Linked DNA regions of Homo sapiens: regions 1 and 3 are each linked to region 2. The links come from fine-mapping of genetic effects on gene expression. A gene starts in region 2. Each other region holds a variant in brackets. All regions are shown on one strand. Distances are between the middles of the regions.

Region 1 (8,187 bases), 54 kb after region 2:
TTGTGTCGTAGCTTGTCCAGGACCTTGTTGAAAGTACCTGGGCTTATGTCTGAGGCTCTGAATAGTCTTCTGCCACAGCTCTCTTTTTATACATTTGGATGTGATTGGATTGTATCCAGTTGATTTTTTTGACACATATTTAATATTTTTTGTTATTAATAAAATATTTACAAATCCTGTGGGTTCATTTCTTAAATTTTGTCGTGCATTAACTAGTTTATTCTTATTTTTATTATTTTTTTTTTAAGTGGGAACTGGGCAGTGAAGAGCCCCACTCCCAATTAGTTCATTCTTAATTATTTTGTTGAATGTTGGCAGTTTACCGCAGATAACACTAATAGAGAAATGTTTAGTTTTAGCATTTAGGATAACTTAGAAGACAATGTAATTAGTTTCAAAAATGTATACCCCTAATGTTGTGTTCATATCATCTGATAACCTCAAATATAGTTAACATTCAAGAAAAGGAGTGCATTATGTGACTGGCCGTGTATGTTTTTGATTAAAAAAGAAAAAAGTTCGTTGTTTCATGGTTGAAAGGGACAACATTTTTGGATGAGGTTTTTTTTTTGTTGTTGTTGTTGTTGTTTTTTAACACTTCTGCTTGAATTAAAACACTCTTAACCAAACCATGCTGAATTACCTAAGGAAGGGACCCCTGGAATGATAGCTTATGTAACAAGCAGCAGCAACAACCCTGACCAATATGATTTTTTTAAAGGAGTTAAGAAATTATAGGTGACTTGAAACTTAGAGCCAAGTAACATAAGTATTAAAAGTATAACCTTGATTTCTCATAAATATTTGGGACAGTGGCATTTAAATGTTACAAGGTAGAAGTCAGCTGACCTCTACATAATACACTAAATTACTCTAGTGCACAAAAAGAGGACAGTAATTCTTTAAAAGGGAGACGAGTACTCTAGTGAGAATATCGAGTTTGTTTTTATGTCTGGAATTAAAGTTCAGATCTTAATCATAAGTTCTATTTTGAGGGCTTTTGTTGAAGATTTTTCATAATCTTAACTTTGCATGCCCCAAAATGACTTTATCTTTTTGCTTTCAGTAAAGTACAGTTGACTTAGTTCGAATCTATCTAGAAATAAGATCCTAGAGGAGACAAAAAACAGCTTGAGAGGATGATTTTTTTTAAAGTCCTGATTGCTGTCAGTCTCAGAGCAATATGGATCAGAGCTGTACAGTGCAAACGGGAAGAAAGCAAAATATATGTTGGGTAAGGGAGGGTATCATCAACATTTGTCCTTTAGGTGCAATCAGTGCTACAGAATATTTACTTCAAGAGCAGAAATTTATGGGATAAAGAAGTATATTGCATCCAGAACACATACAGACACTGGATTTCCTTTTAAATGGTCAGTATTGCCGGTGCAGTGGCTCATGCCTGTTATCTCAGTACTTTGGGAGGTTGAAGCATGCAGATTGCTTGAGCCTGGGAGTTCAAGAACAGCCTAGGCAACATGGCAAAACCCCATCTCTACAAAAAATAGAAAAATTACCTGAGTTTGGTGGCATGCAATTGTGGTCCCAGTTATTGAGGGTGCTGAGGCAGGAGGATTGCTTGAGCCTGGGAGGGCAAGGCTGCAGTTAGCGGTTTGGTGCCACTGTACTCCAGCCTGGGCAACAGAGCATGACACTATCTCAAAAAAAAAAGAAAAAGAAAGGAAAAAAGTTATCAGTATTTTATTTATATACATCAGCCCTAAATCCTCAGTATTTTATATATATACATCAACCCTACCACCAGTTCTCCCGGCTAAGTAACAAAAAGGAATTCTGTCAGCATCATTTAATTCCGTAGGCATTTAACATTATGTGAGGGGAGCCATTCAGTTGCACAAATAGGTACAGCACAGTAAGCCGCAAGAGTAACTTAGTAAACAAAGCATTAGCATTATTATGATACTTTTAACTCACTGTGGCATCTTCCCAGACTTTCTAGAGAGTAAATTAACTGAGTCTGGGTTGCTGTTGGGACTAGTAAGAGAATCTTTCAAAAGGGAATTTAAAGATACGCTCCCTAGGTACCCGTACTCTGTGAGTAAAAGTATTAGCAAACTGTTTATAACATTTATTTTAACATGAATGCCACTTCCAGGCCTTTTTTTTGTGTGTGTGTGTGTGAGACTGAGTCTCATTCTGTCACCCAGGTGGGAGTGCAGTGGTGTGATCTCAGCTTAATGCAGCCTCTGCCCCCACCCCCACCCCCTGCTGGGGTTCAAGTGATTCTCCTGCCTCAGCCTCCCGAGTAGCTGGGATTACAGGCACCTGCCACCATGCCCGGCTAATTTTTGTATTTTTAGTAGAGATGGGGTTTCACCATCTTGGCCAGGCTGGTCTTGAACTCCTGACCTCGTGATCCACCCCCCTTGGCCTCCCAAAGTGCTGGGATTACAGGCGTGAGCCACCGTGCCCGGCCAACTTCCAAGCATTTTTAATACAGGAATATATTTTTCTAGTAAATTAGGATGATGGTAGCATTTTAAAAAGCACAGTGCTGTATATCTGAAGACCTGTTGCCAATATATTATTTCTCTTAATAGATGTTTAGAAAGAATAGCTTTCAACATAGCTGCTACACTGTTGTATGTTATATATAGGATTATATTTCAGTTAAGGACTAGCCAAATTTATTTTCAAACTTCAGATGTTTATCATGAAGTAACTTTGTTAAAAAGGAGATTCTTAAAAGCAAGCATTTGTTTCTTACAGGTCCGAACAAGGTCAGTTGGTGAATGTGTAGCATTCTATTACATGTGGAAAAAATCTGAACGTTATGATTTCTTTGCTCAGCAAACACGATTTGGAAAGAAGAAATATAATCTTCATCCTGGTGTAACGTGAGTTAATTTTTTCCTTAAGAGCTATATATACATTTTTGCTAAGCTTTTCTAGATTTTTCTTGAGTTAATTATTATTTTGATAATCTTGCTTTTATATACTTGATCTTAACCAGAAGGCCGAGAGTGATAAAATCTTGCTTTTATAATACACATTAAACTTTACCATCTATTATATCTTCATAAATAAGGCATTTAGACTTTTCAGTGTCTTATGAAATATTGTAAACTACAGTTCATATTATGTATGAGACAAGCATATCATTAAAGCAAGATTTAGAATGTATATTTTTAATACACTGTTGAGAAGAAATGGATCAGAACAGCTGTGAAAGCATGTTTTTCTTAAATTCAGTTCCATTCAGTATAAGCACATACAGTTTTAATCTTCTTTTTTTTTTTTTGAGATGTAGTCTCAAATCTGTTGCCCAGGCTGGAATGCAGTGGTGCAATCTCAGCTCCCTGCAGCCTCCGTCTCCCGGCTTCAAGCGATTGTCCTGCCTCAGCCTCCCGAGTAGCTGGGATTACAGGTGCCTGCCATGACGCCTGGCTAATTTTTGAATTTTTATTAGAGACGGGGTTTCACTGTGTTGACCAGGCTGGTCTTGAACTCCTGACCTCAAATGATCCACCTGCCTCAGCCTCCTAAAGTGCTGGGATTACAGGAGTGAGCCACTGTACCCAGCATACAGTTTTTTTATAGAGGAAAAAAAACATGTATATGGTGACTTTCCTTTTCCTAGCTTTCCTGAATCTTTCCTCTAACAAGTAATATTTAAGAATTAGTAATGTAACTCTAGTGTAGTCCCATTGACACAGATATGGGTTGTTGTATCCATTCTTTATGTAAAATGTCTGATATGCCTAATTTATTCCCATGTTAAGAGAATTTATTGTCTACACCTCATTCAGTCTAGCTTTGGAGTGAAACATTCCACTACCACTGGCAATTTGTTACTTAAACAGAAAAGAGTATTGAACCCCTTGTCTTTCATGAATTGCTTTAAAATGGTGATTAATTGTTATGATGGAATTAACTTTACAGTGCTATCCTTAATTATTCCCTAATGTTTACAGAATAAAAAAATAATGCAAAATAAAAAATAAAAATAAAAAAAAATTGACTTTGTCAATGTACTCCAGTAAAGATGTTCTTAAAGCTGACCAAATAATTACCTTCGAAAGATGTGCTTGGGCCAGGTGCGGTGGCTCACTCCTGTAATCCCAGCACTTTGGGAGGCTGAGGCGGGTGGATCACAAGGTCAGGAGTTTGAGACCAGCCTGACAAACATGGTGAAACCCCATATCTACTAAAAATACAAAAATTAGCTGATGTGGTGGTGCACGCCTATAGTCTCAGCTACTCGGGAGACTGAGGCAGAAGAATTGCTTGAACCCAGGAGGCGGAGGTTGCAGTGAGCCGAGATCAAACCACTGCACTCCAGCCTGGGCAACAGAGCGAAACTCCATCTCCAAAAAAAAAAAAAAAAGATGTGCTTGTATGTTTATTTGATCTTGCTCTTCAGACTCCTAAACTGCACTGTTTCTTGATCAAGTTCATTTATAGGTAGGTATCTCTGCTGGTCACTTCCTTAGAAGGTCAAATGCTCTAAAGCCCACAGTAAAACAATCTGAAAGAGAATAAATGGGTATGATTCACCCTTGGAAATCATGGGACAATGGAGTGTGTACATCATCCCCCATTATTCAAAGCTGGTGATTGCTAAAGTGGAATTTCATAAATAGCAGTATTGCAAATTTTATCTAATTGCTTAATGTTAAATTTATAGTTAATTTTTTTTCCATTGGTAGTATTCAAGCATAATAATATAGAATTAGATACAGCATCTAGTCTGCAGATATATCTTAAAATAGTCATGATTTTCAAGGTATTATATAGGGAAAAGCAATAGTAACATCTTTTATTTTTTTCAACCATTTCAGAAATAATGTTCACACGTGAGCTACATTCAGTCTGTAATCATCAGCAGTAACAACATAAGAATGGCCATGCTGGGTCAGACCCATGGTTCATCCAGTTTTCTCTTTCAGAAAGCATCACCAAAGTGTGGGCTGGCTTAGTT[G/T]GTCCTCTGTGATGTCAAGATCAACAGGTTAGGTAGGGATGTGCCACCAAATGTTCTAATTTCTCTATTGATCTCCCCATAGCTTCTGAAAACTTTTTGAAGATACTTTTATCTGTAACTTTAATGACTCTTAAGGTTAAATATTCTTTAGGTAGAGTGGCCACAGTTAAAAATAAACAATATCTTAATAGTGGTCACCTGGTATAATGGTATGACGTGAACTAATGTGTTTTTTCCCTTAGGCAGGAATACCATGGTTTTGTAGGCTTCAGTTGTAGCCCCACTGGGTTGTTTTTTTTTTATAAAGTTTATTTAACTGAAAGAATCATACTTTTTTACTGAGACTCTTCCCTTTTAGCTGTGTTATGTCTTCTGTAAGAAGCAGTGACCAAACTACATTTCTTTCCAGATGGGGATAAATTTTTCTGGTTTGCTTCCATTACCATCTCTTTCTGTTAATAGCTGCACTTTAAGTGACTTCATAAAACATTAAGCTAATGTGTTTAGAGAGAAATTTGAGTGAATTTTCTCATCCTTCTTTTTAGGTCAAAATCCATAATTCAGAGCACATTATCCTGAAAGTCATTTGTTCACCAGGATGAAACACATTTTCCCCTTTTCTGCCTACAAACAGCCTTTGAAAGATTCTGCTACACATTGTCCCTATTTACTACCTGGAAGAATTGGGAACCTTATTGGAGATTTCATTGTAGAATACTCAGCTTTCCAAATAATTTTTCCAAAAACTAAACATTAACTCAGCATAACTTTGATTACCTGAATGCTGCTTCAACTTTCTGGATGGTTTGTCTGATTCTGCCCTTTCCTGAATATTCTGGATGCTATTAATCTTTAGGAAACAATGATAATAATAATTACTATCCTTTCACAGAATTATGACTATATCCAGAAATTAAAAATAATTTTGATATCAACTCTTGTTTCCTTTGCCTTGGCTTTTTTTTTTTTTTTAAAGACGGAGTCTCAACCTGTTGCCCAGGCTGCTGGAGTACAGTGGCGCAATCTCGGCTCACTGCAACCTCCACCGCCCGGGTTGAAGTGATTCTACTGCCGCCGCCTCCCGAGTAGCTGGGATTACAGGCATGCGCCACCACACCCGGCTAATTTTGTATTTTTAGTAGAGACAGGGTTTCTCCATGTTGGTCAGGCTGGTCTCAAACTCCCAACCTCAGGTGATCCACCTGCCTCGGCCTCCCAAAGTGCTGGGATGACAGGCGTGAGCCACCACACCCGGCCTTGCTTTGGCTTTTAACTTCCTTCATATTATCCATTCCCACTATAACGTATTTATTTCCAACAATTCCTCATCATGTGTCTTCTGTTAGCCTTAGCACCTGAAGTCCCTTTGGGACTCACCACACTTATTTCTGTGTGCTTCAAATTTGTTATGTAATTTTTCTATAATTATGATGAGTAGCATAAAGCTGAAGAAGTCTTCAAGACCATCTAATTTAATTCTATATAGATTTATAGGTATTCAAGACCATCTAATTGAATTCCCTTCATTTATAGATGAGGAAAATAAGGCATAGAATGTAAATTGCATAGGTCATGGTCATATACATTTCTGAGATATGTATTAGTTTTATACCTCAGACTATTAGAAGTTTCTTGAAGTCAGGTATCACATCCCTATATTTGTTAAATCCCTATAACCTAGGAGACAGTGATGACCATATAGGTTGAGATAACTACAATTAATAGCATATTATAGACTATTAACACAGACTTTCAGAAAATTCCTCAGAGCTTCCACTGTTTCCTTCTTATTTACCCTGCTCACAAAATTCTAAGAGATTTGTCTTAATATTTCTATCATACTTATGCTGAAGGAATTTTAAGATAAATAACACAATTAGAATTTTATTGAGTTTCTTTCTGTTCTGTGCCTTGCACAACTTAGGTACCAGTGGTGCAGGTATAAACAAAGTAGACTAAAAATTCCTGACCTTGGGGAATTCTAGTGCAGTATCTAGTATCAGCAAACTTTTTCTGTAACAGGTAGAGAATAAATATTTTATGCTCTGTAGTAAGAAAGGACTTAATCACACTACTCAGTTGTGCAGTTGTTGCAGGAAAGCAGTCATAGACACTATGTAAACAAAGGTGTGTGGCTGGGTTCCAATAATACTTTATTTACAAAAAACAGATGGCCAGCCCACAGGCTATAGTTGGCTGACTTTTATTCTAGTGGTTTAGTAGCACTTTTTGGATTATGAAACATTTTTATGTACATATATAATACAATAACCATGTGTGTTAGACATATGATTTATCTACATTTTGTAGGTGATACACTAAACCTGAGAGAGACAAATCTCTATCCCAGATCTGCTCACCAATGTCACTTAACCACAGTTACGTAGTTCAGGAATGATTTAGAGAAGAAATGAGCTCACATACAATGAGAAAGTGACAGGATAAAACCAGCAGATAATCCCAGGAATTTAGTTAGCATCTTATAGCTCAGATCTGGCAGAAATATAATACCAAAAATATCCAGGAAGGTTTTAGGAGGTAATCAGTCCTTTTTGTTAGGCTCAAATTTGTCTTTTAGGTATCGCCTTTAGGAGCTTTAAAATTCAATCTATGTTTGTACAGAAATTCTTTTGTACTTTTACTAGACATCACCCCTATCACTTCAGTTAAGAGATCTTCCAGTTCTAGTTGGGCCACTCTGAGCACCTGCCTACAACTTTACAAGCTTTAAAATTTCCTATGGGTCTCTAAAATTTGTTACTTTAAAGCCGTTATGCATTTTTCCTATAAACATGTAACCAAAAGGAGCTTTTCATTTAAATATTCAGATCCTGGTATGATAGATGAAGCACTGGAATGAATGTTAAGTGAATATTAGGATATATTTGTTAAGAAAGCCTTCTGAATTTAACCTCAACTAATTTTTAATTTTCAGCTCTTTTTAATATAAAAATTGTTTTATTAATTTTAAGGGATTACATGGATCGTCTTCTAGACGAAAGTGAAAGTGCTGCATCTAGTCGAGCACCATCCCCTCCCCCAACTGCATCAAACAGTAGTAACAGCCAGTCTGAGAAAGAAGATGGCACTGTAAGCACTGCTAATCAAAATGGTAAGCAACCAGAGAAACATTTCTCTTTCTTCATAATAAGGGACACTTTCTTGCAGTGACTTGGGAAATTCCGTTTGGGTTTCTATTAAACTTCCAGAGCAGAAAGTAAAAAATGATAACACATGAGACAAAC
Region 2 (8,183 bases):
AGTGGCTTGACTTCAGAGGGACAGCTTGATGGTGTAGCTTTGAAGAGGAATCTGGCTGGGGACGGCTGAACTTCAGGGGAAGATTACCTTCCCGTTCTGTCCCCTTTTCAGCTCCTCTTCCCACTGAGAACCACTTTCACACAATAAAATCCCCTGCATTTACCAGCTTCAACTCTCATGCGACCTCATTCCTCCTGGACACTGGACAAGAACTCAGGTGCCACGAGTGTGGGTGCAAAAGGCTGTCATGCTGACCCTCCACTGAGCTGTTAACACTTACGCTGTCTGTAGATGGCAAAGCTAAAAGGGCACTATAACACCTCCTCTGGGGTTTTGGGCATCGTGGATACCCTCCCCTAGATACTGTTGGGGAGTGAGTATGTAGTTTGCTCTTGAAGGTGCCCAAAAGCACTCACCCTGGCTCCTGCACCCACTCACCTGTGCTCCACCTCCCTCAAGGGGTGGAGCAGCGAGTGAGTGGAGTTCACCCCTGCCAGCGCCTGCACACTCCAGTTCCCACCTGTGAAGGAGTCACTATCCTGCTTCACCACCATATCTACAGGGCTCCTGTATAATAATTAGATTACAATGGAAAGAACTGCAAGGCTGAATCTATTTAAGGAGTCCCTAGGGAAACTGTAAAAGACAGAAACAAGGACAGTAGAGGAAACTGATGCCTTACACATTTACAACTAAACAGTAAACACAGCCTAATTCCTAGCCACACAAACATAAAACACACTATCAGCCTATTTAATCTCAGTTCATATTATCTATACAATATGTTCAGCTTTCAACAAAAAATTGTAAGGCATATCAAAAGGTACAAAAACAGTGTGAAGAGACAAAGCAAGTATCAGAACCACACTTGGATATGACAGATATTTTGTAACTGTAAGACTATGAATTTAAAATAATTGTGATTAATATGCTAAGGGTTCTAATGGAAAAAATGGATAACATTCAAGAACAGGTGAGTAATGTAAGCAGAGATAAAAACATTAAATAAGAATCAAAAGGAAACAAGAACATGTAAGGAATATAAAGGCACTGGACAGAGAAATAGGATGAAGAGGTGAACAATCAGCAGTTATTTTTATTGCAATGGGAGACTTGTCCAGTATTGTAAAGCTAAAGGCAAGAATCTAACACAGGAAAAGAGAAAGTGGAAAACTGACAAATATTTGCTTCATGAGATCCTTTCCAAGGTCAGGATTAAGTCCTAAAAGAAGGAAGATGAGAAATAACAAATTAGGCCAAACCAAAAGGTTGTAAACTTGTCTGTGAAACTTCGTTTTAATTAGGTAACATGGCTACTGCAAAAAGTGAAGGTTATACTACTTCCCGTCTCCCACCCCATTCTTTCCTTAATAGATGTTATGAAATTGTCAACATTTAAGAAACTCCCAAAGGAATTTTTCTTAGACATCATACTATGAGAGTTGGACAGTTTTTGTATTTTTCAATTTAATAAACTCAATTTAATTTTACATTAAAATTTCTATACCTTAAGGTGAAAACAAAAACCATACAAGATAAGCAGTAACCAATGTTACTGAAGTAAACACTCATTCATTCAGCAAATATTTATTCAGCACCTTCTTCAATCTAGGCAATGGATACAGTAGTGAACAAAACAAAAATCTCTGCCTTTTTGGAGTACTATCCTTAGGTGAAGATGGATGAATAAGCAGGTACACAATAAACTTGTAGAAATTTTTTTTTTTTTTTTTTTGAGGTGGAATCTCACTCTGTCGACCAGGCTGGAGTACAATGGCAGTGATCACGGATCACTACAACATCACCTTCCCGGTCTCAAGTAATCTTCCCACCTCAGCCTCCAAAGTAGCTAGGACTACAGGCACATGCCACCACGCCTGGCTCAATGTTTTGTAGAAATGGGGGTTTGCCATGTTGCCCAGGCTGGTTGTGGACTCCCAAGCTCAAGTAATTTGCCCACTGGTTGTGAACTCCCAAGCTCAAGCAATTTGCCCACTTCAGCCTCATAAAGTGGTGGAATTACAGGCATGAGCCACTGTGCCTGGCAGGAATAAATTTTATGGAAAAATTCAAGCAAAGGTGAGGGACTGAAGAGCTCCAAAGGTGAAGTATTATTACTTTATATGGGGTGGTAAAGGACTCTTTGACACAGTTACCTAAAGGAGGTGAGTCATGAGGTTATCTGGGGGCACAATATTCCAAAAAACTGCATATGCACAGGCTCCAAAGGGGGAATATAGTGTGTCTGATGTGTTGTGGGACAACGTGGGATGTAATTAGGCAAGAGGAAGAGTCTATAGTGAGATCCTGTGGGGCCCTGTAAAGAGTTTTACTGAGTGAAATGGAAAAAACTTGAGAAATGTTTTGAGCAGAACCACATTGATTACTACCTGGAGGGTGTTGGCAAGGAGACTATTTAGGTGGGTATCACAATGTAACACAGTGATTTACATGGGAGTGGTAGTCTGGATTTATTTGGCAGGTAGAAATGGTAAAATTTGCTTATAGAGTGAGGTATAAGATAGAAGTCAAGGGTAATCCCAAGGTTTTTCCCCTGAGTAAGTGAAAGAGTGGAATTTGCCATTTACTAAAATGAGAAAGATTGCAGTTAATTAGAAAAGACAGAAAATATTATATATTTGGTTTGAGATGTTTATTAACTTATAAGTGCAGGTGTTTTTTCTTAAAATCTGTTTTCTTGGGAGAGGTCTTAGCCAGAGATTAACATTTGTGAATCATCATTATAGGTGATATTAAAGACATCAGAGTGAAGAGGTTTATGGACTAACCCAGCAATACCAATACAGTCCTGGATCATCAACAATGAATCACATATACAATGGTGATCTGGTAGCAGAGCTGAAAAATTCCTATTGTCTAACAACGTTGTAGTTGTCACAACATTCAAGCACAAGACATTACCTTTTCTATGTTTACATACACAAATACTTAGCATTGTGTTACAATTGCCTACAGTATTCAGTACAGTAACATGCTATGCAGGTTGGTAGCCTAGAAGCAACAAATGCATTTTCATCATTATGCAAACACCATTTAGTGTACTTACACAAACCTAGATGTATAGCCTACTATAGCTTAGGTGTACAGTCTACTATACAATTGTAGCCTAGGTGTATAGTAGCCCATACATCTACGTTTGTGTAAGTACACTAGAAGATATTTGCAAAATGCTGAAATTGGCTAACAAGGTATTTCTCAGAAGGTATCACCATCGATGCATGACTGTATTTAGTTATGGTAGTGAGGAACAGATACCAGCAAAGGATCTGGGAAAGGTGAAACCATGAACCAAGACAAGAACTAGGAAGAGTGGTTTCTCAGAACCCAAATAAAGCTTTTCAAAGATCGAGAAGCGATAAACCCGACCGACACTGCTTCATTCAAAAAGAATGAAACTGTGGATCAGCCATTGTATTTGGTTGCATGGCTATTGCTGGCTTTCATAGAAGCTGTTTTGATGGAGTGGTAGGATGGACAAAAGCGTGAGTACCATATTCAAGAGAGAATGCAAGGTTCTCTCCCAAGAACTCTCAACAAGTTCCGCTGAAGAAAGATTAGCTGAGGTGGAGGAGATTGGAGAGGGGAAGAGAAAACAAATTACTTAGGGAATTTTGGGGGAACTTAGTGGGCAGCATTACGGGCAGCGCTAAGGAACCATTTAAAGTAAGACAAGTCCACACAGCTGTGTGCTTTTCTACAGTCTTGTTCAACTGCTGCATAACAACAGAATGTTGGAAGCAGGAATTAGTTTTAAAGTAAGATGGTATTGACGAGACGACAATAAAATACCTCTACTACAGAGCACAGCAATGTTCGGCCTGGTGGCTCACAGAAGCTGAGGCTCTTGAACGTCTGGGCACAGCATGAAAGCATCAAGCTTGAGAGACTGCAGGCCTTAACAAACTAGAAGTGCTAGAACGATGGTTCTAAACCAGGTCTTTTCTCACACAGCAAGCACAGCAATAGAGATTTATTTTATCTTATTTTTTAGACAGAGTCTCGCTCTGTTGCTCAGGCTCGAGTGCAACGGCACGATCTCGGCTTACTGCAACCTCCGCCTTCCGGGTTCAAGGGATTCTCCTGCCTCAGCCTCCCAAGTAGCTGGGATTACAGGCATGTGCCACCACGTCCGGCTAACTTTTTGTATTTTTAGTACAGACGGGGTTTCACCATGTTGGCCAGCCTGGACGCTAACTTCTGACCTCAGGTGATCCACCCCACTCGGCCTCCCAAAGTGCCGGGATTACAGGTGTGAGCCACCGCGCCCAGCCCAGTAGAGATTCTTTTAAAGACTGCGGTAGGTCGATAAAGGAGACATTGTGGCCTAGGAGCTTCAAGGTCTACAGACTGAACCCAGTTAGGGTAGGGCCCCTTTCCAAATCCAGAAATGGTATCTATTAATAGAAGGGCTCCCTCCGGGTCCCAGGGGGATGGACTACGGTTTTTAGCGCCGGAACTTACAACCCGAAGTTCTGCTGCTTGTGACTGCCTGCCGGAGAGACTGGCATGGTGGCGACCAGCTGGGGAGTGGTGCACCACCCCTTTTTTTGGCCGCCTCTGAAGTCCCTGTACCCCCAAGCTCCTCCGTTAGCGGCTCGGGCCGAGGCTCCGGAATGTTTGCCGGGCGTCATGGCGACGGTGGAGCCCTGGCTCAACAAGCGGCCGCGCGGTTGGCTGGCGGCACGAGGCCGAGGAGGAGGGCGGAGGCGGAGGGGAGGGCAGAGGGTTGGTGGAGCTGGAGGAAGCTCCGGACGACGACTGGAAGAAGGAGGCGGGCGGCCCGGGCCTCAGGCCCCTCCCAGGCTCTGAGTCTCCCGGCTGCAGGCGGATGGATGGGGCTTCTTCAGGCGGTGGCGGCAGCAGCGAAGGTGGCGGCGGCAGCAGCGGCAGCGGCTGTAAGTGCAGCCTCCACAAGCCATCTCTCCCCTTCTATTCCAGTTTGGGATGAGGGGCTCCTGAGGTGTCCTCAGTCCCCTTTCTCTCCTTCCCCTCCCCCACGGCAGTGTACCGCCCGGAAGACCCTTAACTTCCGGGGAGGGGCTGCCGCAGAACGCGCCTGGCTTGCTCTCCGCCGGCTGCCAAAGGCGCATGCGCAGCTTCCTCCCTCTGGCCATCGACTGCCTCCCAGCGCCGCCTTTTTGCCTTCGCGGTGGTGGCGCCGCGCTGGGAATCCGCTGCGGAGTGAGTTCGCCTCGCCCCGTTCGCTTCGGTCCCTGATCCCAGTCGGGGTGGGGCTAAGCTGACCACCCTGCTGTGGCTCCGCCTCTTTCTCCTGTATTTCCCTCACTTGTGTCCCATCCCCGGGAGGCTCTCGCTTGCACTGCAGCCTTTATGGTGAGCAGCGCCCTGGGCCAACTTGCCCTTTTCGGATGGAGTCAGGGAGGGAGGAGAGACTCGAATAGGGTATTACTGTAAGGAAACGAGGTCCTCCTAGCGCGTGGGAGGATCCCTTGGGACAGATGCCCGCCGCTCTTTACTCTTGTTCTTTCAGCTTGTAGTGGCTAGGTCCCTGGCCTGGAGCCTATCTGTGGTCCCTGCATGCTGTGTAACCTTGAGCGAGTCACTATCCCTCTCTGGGCTTCAGTTTTCCCTATTTAAAGCTTCCTCCAACGCTAGAATTCTGCATTTCTGCAGAAGAACTTATGTAATTACAAGATTGACTTGGCTATTGAGGCCGCTTCACCAAGATGACCCGGAGTTGACTGAACCTTCTTCACTTATGGGTGGAATGAGGCGACCTATTTATTGGGTCGCTTTTATTCCTTTATCATTAGTTACAAATTGCATGACTTAAGGCTCATTAAATGTTTTTCTAAAATTGTCATGGGATCCTTGTCCTGATTCCCGACCATCTTTTTAAAAATGCGAAACAGGGTGGATGGTGAGCTTGTATCATCGTTTCTGTCTCCTTGCTACTGAGGCTCTCTTTCCTTTGATCCAGATGGTGTGGTCGCTCGATTCTCCCAGTGCCTGGCTGAGTTTCGGACGTGGTTAAGAACCAACTGGTTGAGGTTCAATGCAGACAAGACGGATGTGATGCTGGTAGGCAGGGGTACACTTGGAGATTAAGGGAGGGAAAATCCAAACTCCCTCAAGTAATATAAGATTATATTACTCTTCTTATATGTTCCAGTGTTTGAGAACTGATGGGCCAAAAATTTCCAGAATTTGGGTGAGATAAAAATAACATGTCATCAATGTAAAAACCATAATCATAGTTTGTAATATTCTGATAAAATGGGGCCACTGGATAAAACTGTAAAAATTATGAAAAGAAAATCCAAAACTGTTATTTGAAGAACCAAAAGCCTATATAAGTGTTTTAGAGTGGCATTAATAACAAAAAATGAAACTAACGAAAGATGATGCTGATTGTCACTATAGATGTGGGGCTTCCAAATGTAATAGGCTAAGTTTTTTAGATGTAGGTATTTTCAACCAAATTAGTAATTATCCATAAAATTTTACCACCACATCATAAAGACATGGTGTAGGCTGTTGCTTTTAAATAAAAATTTCAGGAAATAGTTTATAAACTAATCTCAAAAGAGACTCATGGACGCTGAAAATTGTTAGATATAGAATTTTTTAGTTTTGGATGTGTTGTATTAATCTATTTCAGTCAGCTAACCCCAGAGTCTAAATTGTTATAAGTACAGTATTTTCTTGGTGCATTTTGAGAGGTACCTTTTTGGATTGCATAACAGATAGGTTTATATAGTATATATATATATGTTACTTGTATTTGAATCAGGTGTTGGTACTGAATAAAAGGTTATATTTCTTAGGTATATGTAAATTGCCAAAGAAGTTTGTTCATTGGTTCGTTTAAGGTACTGGTTGAAGTAAGATTGTGCTCCTAAATGCTTTTGTTAAAAGCATAATAATAACTGAGGGGTTTGTGTGTGCGTGCGCCTTATAGCCTCTATAGAATTGTTCAATAACTTTTGAATGGAAGATTCAGTAAATTGCTTACAAATGATTTATCAATATAATAGCAGTTTTGAGTAGCTTAATGTCATAAAAATTAATGTTACTTTGCCTGAAAATAAGGAGGCTTTTAGGTGGGGAATAGGAGCTGAAGAGGCATTTATTCAGGCTTTGTATAGTGGTTTTTTGTTTTGGGACATTAATCACAAACCTCACATAAAATTGGAATTCAGCACACTTTTTTAGTTTAAAAATTTTATACACAATTCCAACAGAACTACTGTTTTGGATATCACATTAATAAATAACAAAGTGTAATAATTTTAAGCAGACACAATTAATGGTGCATTTTCTTATGCCTTTAGCTCTCTCATGTCCTATTTTCAACTCTTCTAGTATGAATAGGCTTTAAAAATAAATTTTTTTTTGTTAACCCAAGTATAAATATTAACTGTTTGCATTTGGATACAAAGAAGATATCTGTTGAATTAATCCAAAGTGCTGAAGAACTAAGGGTAATGGATGGAAACAACAAGGAGGTAGATTCTGGCATAATAAAAGAAAGAATGTTTTAAACATTTGAACTTTTTTTGAAAAGAGCAGCCTTTTTATGAGATATAGTGAGTCACTGGAGGGGTTTAAACATAGGCAGAAAGCCTGGTAGTAGAAGCATGATGAGAGATTACTATCTTGACAGGGTAGAGAATTGACTAAAAGATCTCTAAGGTCCCATCCAACACTAAAATTCTATAACTAGTGAATAGTTAATTTTTATATATTTAATACTGAAGAGGGTAAGTAAGCGTTTTGAGAAAGACTTTTCATTCCGTAAGGTGGCTCCTGAAAATTTTACAGTTAGGTGTATCACTAAAATAAAATAATAGTGGAAGGATACTGAATTCAGTGGTAATGTGTTACCTATGAATTGCAGTATTAGAGCTGTTTCTTTTTTATAATATCTGAACCTAAAAAACCCACTGAATCCACATTTATAAAAAGGGGAAGGGGAAAAATGTAGAGAGTTTTTTTCCCTCAATAATAATAATACCATTTAAAACTAGTAATATTGATACACAATATTAATAAACTTAAAGAGTTATTTAACAGTAAGATAGATACCCATTCAGAAATGTTTCAGACTTCCATTTTCCTGACAAGTTTAGGATTCATTCAGTAGGTTAATAGACTATGATCCCCTGCTCTTTATCATAGTTGGGATTTCTGTTGGTAGT
Region 3 (8,188 bases), 100 kb after region 2:
ATTTTGTATTCTCACCAGCACTATATAAGAGCTCCCACTGATCTATATTCTCACCAACACTTGGAACTGTTACAGGCCATTCTAATAAGTGGTTAAGTGATATTTTCTCATTTTAATTTGCATTTCCCTAAAGACTATCAATATTGAGTATCTTTTAATCTTTGACATTAGCATTTCTTCTTTGGTGAAGTGTCTGTCTAAATCTTTTGCCATTTTTTTTTTTTTTTTTGAGACAGAGTCTCACCCTGTCGCGCAGGCTGGAGTGTAGTGGTGTGATCTCAGCTCACTACAACCTCTGCCTCCTGGGTTCAAGCGATTCTCCTTCCTCCGCCTCCCGGGTAGCTGGGATTACAGGCACATGCCACCACACCCGGCTAATTTTTGTATTTTTAGTAGAGACAGGGTTTCACCATGTTAGCCAGGCTGGTCACGAACTCCTGACTTCAAGTGATCCGCCCGCCCTAGCTTCCCAAAGTGCTGGGATTACAGAGGTACAAAAGAGGTGCCCGGCCTCTTTTGCCAAATTTTTATTCACATTATTTGTCTTATTACTGAGCTGCACGAGTTTTTAAAAATATATTCTAGATAAAAGTCCTTAATCACACATATGCTATACACACACATACATAAAATACAAATATTTTTTCCCAGTCTGTGACTCACCTTCCATTTTCTTTTTTTTTTTTTTAAGACAGAGTCTCACTATGTCGCCCAGGCTGGAGTGCAGTGGCACGAACTCGGCTCACTGCAACCTCCGTCTCCTGGGTTCAAGTGATTCTCCTGCCTCAGCCTTCCAACTAGCTGGGATTACAGGTGCATGCCACCACACCCAGCTAATTTTTGTATTTTTTAGTAGAGATGGGGTTTCGCCATGTTGGCCAGGCTGGTCCTGAACTCCAGACCTCAAGTGATCCGCCCGCCTCAGCCTCCCAAAGTGCTGGGATTACAGTCGTGAGCCACCATGCCCAGCCTCACCTTGCATTTTCTTAATAGTGTCTTTTGAAGAGCAAAAAATGTTAATGTTGATGTAGTCTAACATCAATATTGTCTTTTATAATTCTTGCTTATAACTTTTTAATGAAACCTGGGTGTAACCAAAAGTCAAAGATCTTCTCCTATCTTTTCTTCTAGTTTTATGGTTTTAGCTTTTACAGTTAGGTCTATGAACCTTTTAACATTAGTTTGCTAGAGCTGCCATAACAAAGCACCACAAAACTGAGTAGCTTAAATGGCAGAAATTTGTTGTCTCACAGTTCTGGAGGGTAGAACTCCAAGATGAAAGTGTCTACAGGATTGGCTCCTTCTAAGAACTGAGACACAATCTTTTTCTTGCCTCTCCCCTAGCTTCTAGTGGTTTGTTGGCAATCTTTGGTATTTTTTTAGCTTGTAGAGGTATCACCCTGATGTCTAACTTCATGTTCACATGGTGTTCTCCCTGTGTGCATACCTGTGTCCTAATTTCCCACCCCGCCCCCCAACCTTTTTTTTAAGCAAGGTCTTGCTTTGTCAACCAGTCTGGAGTACAGTGGCGTGATCATGGGTCACAGCATCCTTGAACTCCGAAACTTAAATAATCCTTCCACCTCAGCCTCCTGAACAGCTAAGACTATAGGTGTGCACCACCATATCTGGCTAATATTTTTTAAGTTCTTTTGTAGAGACAGGGTCTTGCTTTGTTGCCCAGGTTGGTCTCAAACTTCTGGCCTCAAGTGATCCTTCCACCACGGCCTCCCAAAGCACTAGGATTATAGGTGTGAGCCACCCTGCTGGCCCTTGATTTCCCTTCTTAGTAAGAACACCAGTCATATTGAATTAGTGACCCACCCTACTCCCGTATGACCTGATCCTAACTAATTACACCTCAATCATCACATTTCAAAATAAGATTTATTGTGAGGTACTAAGGATTAGGACTTCAATATATGAATCTGGAAGGGGAGGGACACAATTTAACCTATAACACTTTCCTGATTAATGTTTGTATATTCCACAAGGTCACAGTCAAGGTTCACTATTTTGCATACAGATGTCAAATTGTTCTACCAACATTTGCTGAAGACATTATCTTTTCCTCATTGATCTATTTTCACACCTTTGACAAAAATGATTGCCCACATGGTATATTTCTATTTCTAGATTCTCTGTTCTGTTTCACTGGTCTGTCTACTCTTAATCCAATATCACAGTGTCTTGATTACTGAAGCTTTATAAGAAGTGTTGAAATCAAGTAGGGTAAATCCTCTAAAGCTGTTATTTTTGAAAACTGATTTGACTATACTAAGTCCTTTGCAATTCCACATAAATTTAAAAATCTGCTTGTCAATATCTACAAAAATCTTCCCATAGAGTTGGGGTGGTGTTGAATCTATAGATGAATTTGCTAAGAACTGACAAATTATATCAAACCATCTAATTAATAAACATAAAAATCACTTATTTAGGTCTTTTAAAATTTATCTCACTAGTGTTTTGTAGTTTTCAGCATACAGGTAACATATTTTGTTAAATTTATCCCCCAAGTACTTTATAATCTGAAGCTATTATAAGTGGTATTTTTTACTTAGCTTCCAAGTGTTCACTGCTGTTTTGTGGAGCTACAGTTAATTTTTGCATATTGACCTTGTACTGTACAAACTTGCTAATTAGTTCCAATCACTTTTTTCTAGATTCTTTAAGATTTTCTACATATATCATCATGTTTTTAATACACACAGTTTTGCTTCTTCCTTTCAAATCTATATTATACAGATGGAGTTCTTCAACATAACACTGAATAGAACACTATATGAGTACAGACATCCTCGCCTTGTTCTCAAATCTTAGTGAAAAAGTATTCAGTCTTTCTTTCACCATTAAATATGTCAGCAATAGATTCTTTGGTAGATGTCCTTTCTTATGCTGAGAAAGTTCCCTTCTATTCCTAGTTTATTGAGAATTTTACACTCATGAGTGGGTGTCACCTTTTGTCAAATAGGTTTTCTGCATCTATTTAGGATAGTTCTACTATATTCTTGTTAATATGGTAAACTGCACTGATCGATTTTCAAATGTTAAATTAACCTTAATTCCTGAGATAAACACAATATGGTCATGATATACTGCCCTTTTAATATATTGCTGGATTTTTTTGTACTGTACTTTCTCCCCCCTTGTAATGTTTTTGTCAGATTTTGGCAGAAGGTAATCCTAGCCATATAAAATCAACAAGGAAGTGTTCTATCTTCTATTTTCTGGAAGAATTTATGTAGAATTATTATTTCTTCCTTAAATTTTTTGTCAAATTCTCCAGTGAAGCAATCAGGGCCTGAAATTTTATTTTGAGGAAAGTTTTTAACTACAAATTCAATTTCTTTAACATAAATAGGGCTATAATAGCCCTATTATTAATTAAGGCTTATGATTAATTTCAATTAAACAGACCTATTTAATTACTGTATTAGTCTCTTCTCATGCTGCTATAAAGGAATACCTGAGACTGG[G/A]TAATTTATAAAAGAAAGAGGTTTAATTGACTCACAGCTCCGCATGGCTGGGGAGGCCTCAGGAAACTTACAATCATGGCAGAAGGCACCTCTTCACAGGGTGGCAAGAATGAGTGCCCAGCAAAGGGGGAAGACCCTTATAAAATCATCAGATCTCGTAAGAACTCACTATCACAAGAACAAGATGAGGAAACTGCCCCCCATGATTCAATTATCTCCACCTGGTCCCTCCCACGACACATGGGGAATATGGGAACTACAATTCAAGATGAGATTTGGGTGGGGACACAGCAAAACCATATCAATTACTTAACAGAGTAGAGTTATTCATACATTACCTATTTCTTCTTGAGTGAGCTTTGGTACATAGTTTGTCTTTTCCAAGAATCTATTTTGTCTCAGTTGTCAAGTTTATTGGCATAATATTGTTCATAATATTCTCTTACTATTCTTTTAAAATATACCTGCTCTGTAATGAGGTCCTTCTTTAATTTCTGATATTGATAATTTATGTAAACTCACTTTTTGGCCTGATTAATTGGCTATGAATTAGCAATTTTATTAATCTTTTTTAAAAAAAATCTTAGCTTTTAGTTTCATTGGTTTTCATTGCATTGATTTCTATTCTTATCTTACAATCTTACATTTCTTATGTTTATTTTGGATTTAATTTTCTAGTTTCCTTTTTTTATTCTTCCTTCTTAAAAGACAGGTCTCACTATATTGCCCAGGCTGGCCGTGAACTCCTGACCTCAAGTAATCTTCCTACCTCAGGCTCCCAAAGCATTGGAATTACAGGCATGAGCCACCTCATCCCAGCTACTTTCTTAAGACAGAGGCTTAGATCACTCATTTTAGATCTTTCTTCTTTTCTAAAATAAGCATTTAGGGATTTAATTTATATAATTAATTTTATGGGTTTCCCTCTATATACTGTTTTGGCTGCATTCCAGAAATTTTCCTATGTTGTAGTTTTTTTGTTTTTTGAGACAGACACAAAAACAACCAGGGTCTGTTGCCGAGGCTGGAGTGCAGAGGTGCTATCTTGGCTCACTGCAATCTCTGCCTCCTGGATTCAAGTGATTCTCGTGCTTCAGTATCCCACGTAGCTAGGATTACAGGTGTGAGCCACCATGCCTGGCTAATTTTTGTATTTTTAGTAGACACGAGGTTTTGCCATGTTGACCAGGTTGGTCTCAAACTCCTGACCTCAAGTGATCCACCTATCTCAGCCTCTCAAAATGCTGGGATTGCAGGAGTGAGCCACCACACCCAGCCACTATGTTGTGCTTTGATTTTCATTGTTCAAAATATTTTCTGATTTTCTTTGTGATTTTTCTTTGTCTATGAATTATTTAGAGGTGTGCTAATTTGCAAATATTTGGGGATTTTCCAAATATCTTTATGCCATTAATTTCTACCTTAATATTGTTCTGGTCAGGGAATATACTTTGTATGGTTTCAATTCTTTTAAACTATTAAGACTCATTTTATGGCCCAGAATATAGTTTATCTTGGTATATACCCAATGTGCACTTGAAAAGAATGTGTACGCTGCTGTTGTTGAGTGGATTGTTCTTTAATGTCAAGTAGATCAAGCTTGTTGACAGTATTATCCAAGTCTTCTATACTTTACTGACTTCCAGTTTCACTGTTTTATCAATTACTGAGTTAAAAATATTAAGATCCCAATTGTAATTGTGGGTTGGTCTATTTCTCCTTTCTGTTCTATCAGTTTTTACTTCATATATTTTGGAGCTCTCTCATCAAGAATATATACACTTAGGACCATTATATCCTTTTGAGGAATTAACCCATTTTATCATTATGAAATGTTCCTCTTTATGGTACAGTTTCCTTTACATTCTGTGTTTACTGAGCTCCTTGTGTGTGTGCCTTTAAAGTTTTCATCAAATTTGCAGAAAAAAAATTTCTACTCCCACCCTTCATAGACTTCTTGATATTGCCCCACAGGTCACTAATATTGTGTTCATTTGCTTTACAATCTTTTTTCCTCTATACGCTTCATCTTGGACAGTTTCCATTACTGTCTTTAATTCACTGATCTTTTCTCCTAATCTGCTGTTTCATTCCTTCCACTTTATTTTTCAATTCAGATATTTTTCATCCCTAAAAGTTCCAATTGAGTCTTTTGTTATAGCTTTCTTTTCTCTTCTCATCCTTTCTTAACAATCCTTCACAGCCTGTCATCCAAAGACTGAAAAATGTTGTTTGATAAATGTTTGATTTTCTAGTACCTTAATGTAGGAAGGTAAACCCTGTCCGTGTTATTCCATCATGGCTAGGAAATGAAAGACCACATTCAGTTCCTGATTTGAATTATAAACCTGTACCAAATGATGCTTCCACTAGGAAGCTTTCACAAAAACCTAAGTTGCACATTAGTATCTTTCCTGCCAAACTCAAGAGAAGACTAAATGCTACTTTTATCAGGTTCCTTACTAAGTATGTGTACATATATGGACATCTTTATGTACATGACTATCTCTCCAGACAGACATTGCAAATACCTTGATGATTTATCTCTGTATCCATGGTATTTAACAAAGTGATCAGAAAATAGTAGGTGTTTAATAACTGTTTACTGGATGAATGGAAGACATGAGAACTCATGCATACAATCTCATGCTACGCTCCTTCATACCTGTAAACACAACCTCCTCTCTGATGAAAAATCAGTAACGCACAATAAACTGGCCTACGACTCAGGAGACCAGCTTCTGCTAGCAAGACTGTAAGTTCCTTGGGAGCAGGAAATGTGTCACATGTCATTTCTGCAGAGTTCCATGCACTTAGAAGTGCTAAGCACAAATACTAGTGGCAGTAGATTAAACATCCATGATCTGTGGCCCAGCATCATTTTCTACACACAGATGAGGTGAACTTTGCTTTTGTTTTAATCCCTGACCCCCTCTGAACTTTGCTTTTTAATACACCCACACACCTGCTTGTACATGCTACTAACTGTATTTAAGTTGAATGTTAAATCTACATAATTTGTTTTTAAAAAAAGTTTTATTTCACATTTATCTGAAACTGGACCAGAATCTCAAGTATGTTTACATTTTAATTGTTCACATTTTAACTGTTTCTTACACTATCAGTTTGCCCTGTTTCCTGCGCCCCACGCCCCAAGCTTTATTAAGGTATAGTTAACAAAATATATAATTTTAACTTTTCTTCTAATAATTAAAGGTCATTTGAACTGCATGTAACTCATTAGCTTTGCACTAAGTTTTTTTTTTTTTTCTTTGAACAGACAAGGCATAACCCAGTAAGCCATCAATTAGGCAATGGAAAGGTTACGCATACCCTGCAAGAAAAGCCATTGTACCTAGAAAAGTAGGTGGACCAGGATTCAGAAGCCTGGTGTCTTGTACCACCTCACCACTGCTTCATTATGCTAGACTGAGCTTCTGTAAAGGAGAACTGCATGGGTATTAAGGCTTCTTCCAGTTGTGACAGGAGTATTAGATCAGCTTGAAAAGTAGAGAGTTTATTTTACCCAAGCTAAAACACATAAAAGAAATCTCAGCCCTAAAACCTTTCCTCCAGCTCTAAATTATCTTCCTTTCCTGGCTAAGCTATTCTTTTATCCCAAAGTCATTAAGAATACAGAATAAGTTGTTGTAAGGGACAATGATAATTCTCTGAACCTTAGTTTCTACATATGTAAAAAGAGGAATAATAAGGCCTCATCTACAGGGTTGTTATCAGAATTACAAAAAATATATATATGGATACAATCACTGACATGGAGGGAATCTGGCTCAATAAATGATGTCAGCTACTATATATAATCATTACTTTTAATTTTTTTTTTTATCAGTGACCTAATCAGTGGTTCAGTAATCAGAATTATTTGGCAAAGACCTCAAATAAACCTCTCATAAACCTAAGTTTCTTCTCTCCTCTAGCTCTAAATATCTCCTCTGCTTTCGGTGTACAATTCTGACATCTATTAAGTCCCATGTGCCAGGCCCCAGGCAGGATTTGAGGCACAATGCTAAAGATGGTTTAATCAGGCTTCCTGATAATCAAGCAGCAAATGATTAAAAAAGTGCTGCCATACATTTTTGGAGTGCCTTATGGTTTACCAAGTGCTTCTGCATGTATCATGTCATTTGATTGCCATGACAACCTGTGGGACAGAAAGGCCAGATCTTCTTATACCCAGAAGACGGGTAACTTACTTTAGGTCACACAGGTTATATACGGTAAACATGAGTCTACATATGCTAAGCCCCAAGGCTGTCTACACTGAATGTTACATTTGATTCAGAAAAATGCCCCAAATATATACTGCACAGTCTCCTTTGGGGACATAATAATGATATCTGCAGGACATTAAAATAAATCTCATGGATATGGTTCCATTCAGATAAAAATCAAAAACAGAAAAATAATTCTCATGGGACTTTTTTTTTATTTCTCTAAGTATTTGGCCTGTCTCTGGAGAAAGTCAGTCTATGGCACAAGCACGCTGTTGCATTCCTCTGCTTCGCCACAGGAATAGATCTTTGGCTGCAACAAAAGCAGCAGCAGCCATTTGAAAGTACAGCTGTAGGAAAAACAGAACCCTGGCAGTCCCTACAGTGCAAAGGAGCCCATTCTCCCTGCCATAAAGACAGCATTAAAAAAAAATAAAAACTACTGCTTATTAAGTGCCTATTATGTACCAGGCTCAG

The links. PIP is the estimated chance that this variant, and not a neighbour inherited with it, causes the effect. A credible set is the group of variants that fine-mapping cannot tell apart.
Region 1: its variant is the best candidate, but not a certain one, in a credible set for the expression of MIER1 in whole blood (INTERVAL, PIP 0.65).
Region 3: its variant is the best candidate, but not a certain one, in a credible set for the expression of MIER1 in fibroblasts (GTEx, PIP 0.72).

The regions. Positions count from the first base shown.
Region 1 is chr1:66,973,865-66,982,051 of GRCh38, forward strand. It overlaps MIER1 (MIER1 transcriptional regulator), which reads left to right. Exons shown (of 14, transcript NM_001077700.3): 12 at 2,731-2,858; 13 at 7,915-8,054. It also overlaps a transcript of SLC35D1 not described here. Among named protein-coding and RNA genes, the nearest start is that of MIER1, 53 kb to the left of the region's middle. The variant G/T (reference allele first, on the strand shown) is at 4,943.
Region 2 is chr1:66,920,180-66,928,362 of GRCh38, forward strand. MIER1 (MIER1 transcriptional regulator) reads left to right here and starts at 4,811. Exons shown (of 14, transcript NM_001077700.3): 1 at 4,811-4,916; 2 at 5,963-6,063. The coding sequence starts at 4,850. DNAI4 (dynein axonemal intermediate chain 4) reads right to left here and starts at 4,677. Exons shown (of 17, transcript NM_024763.5): 1 at 4,483-4,677. The coding sequence starts at 4,652. RefSeq lists enhancers at 4,380-4,539, 4,830-5,109 and a silencer at 4,680-4,799.
Region 3 is chr1:67,023,275-67,031,462 of GRCh38, forward strand. The region is part of intron 8 of SLC35D1 (solute carrier family 35 member D1); the gene reads right to left. Among named protein-coding and RNA genes, the nearest start is that of SLC35D1, 27 kb to the right of the region's middle. The variant G/A (reference allele first, on the strand shown) is at 3,480.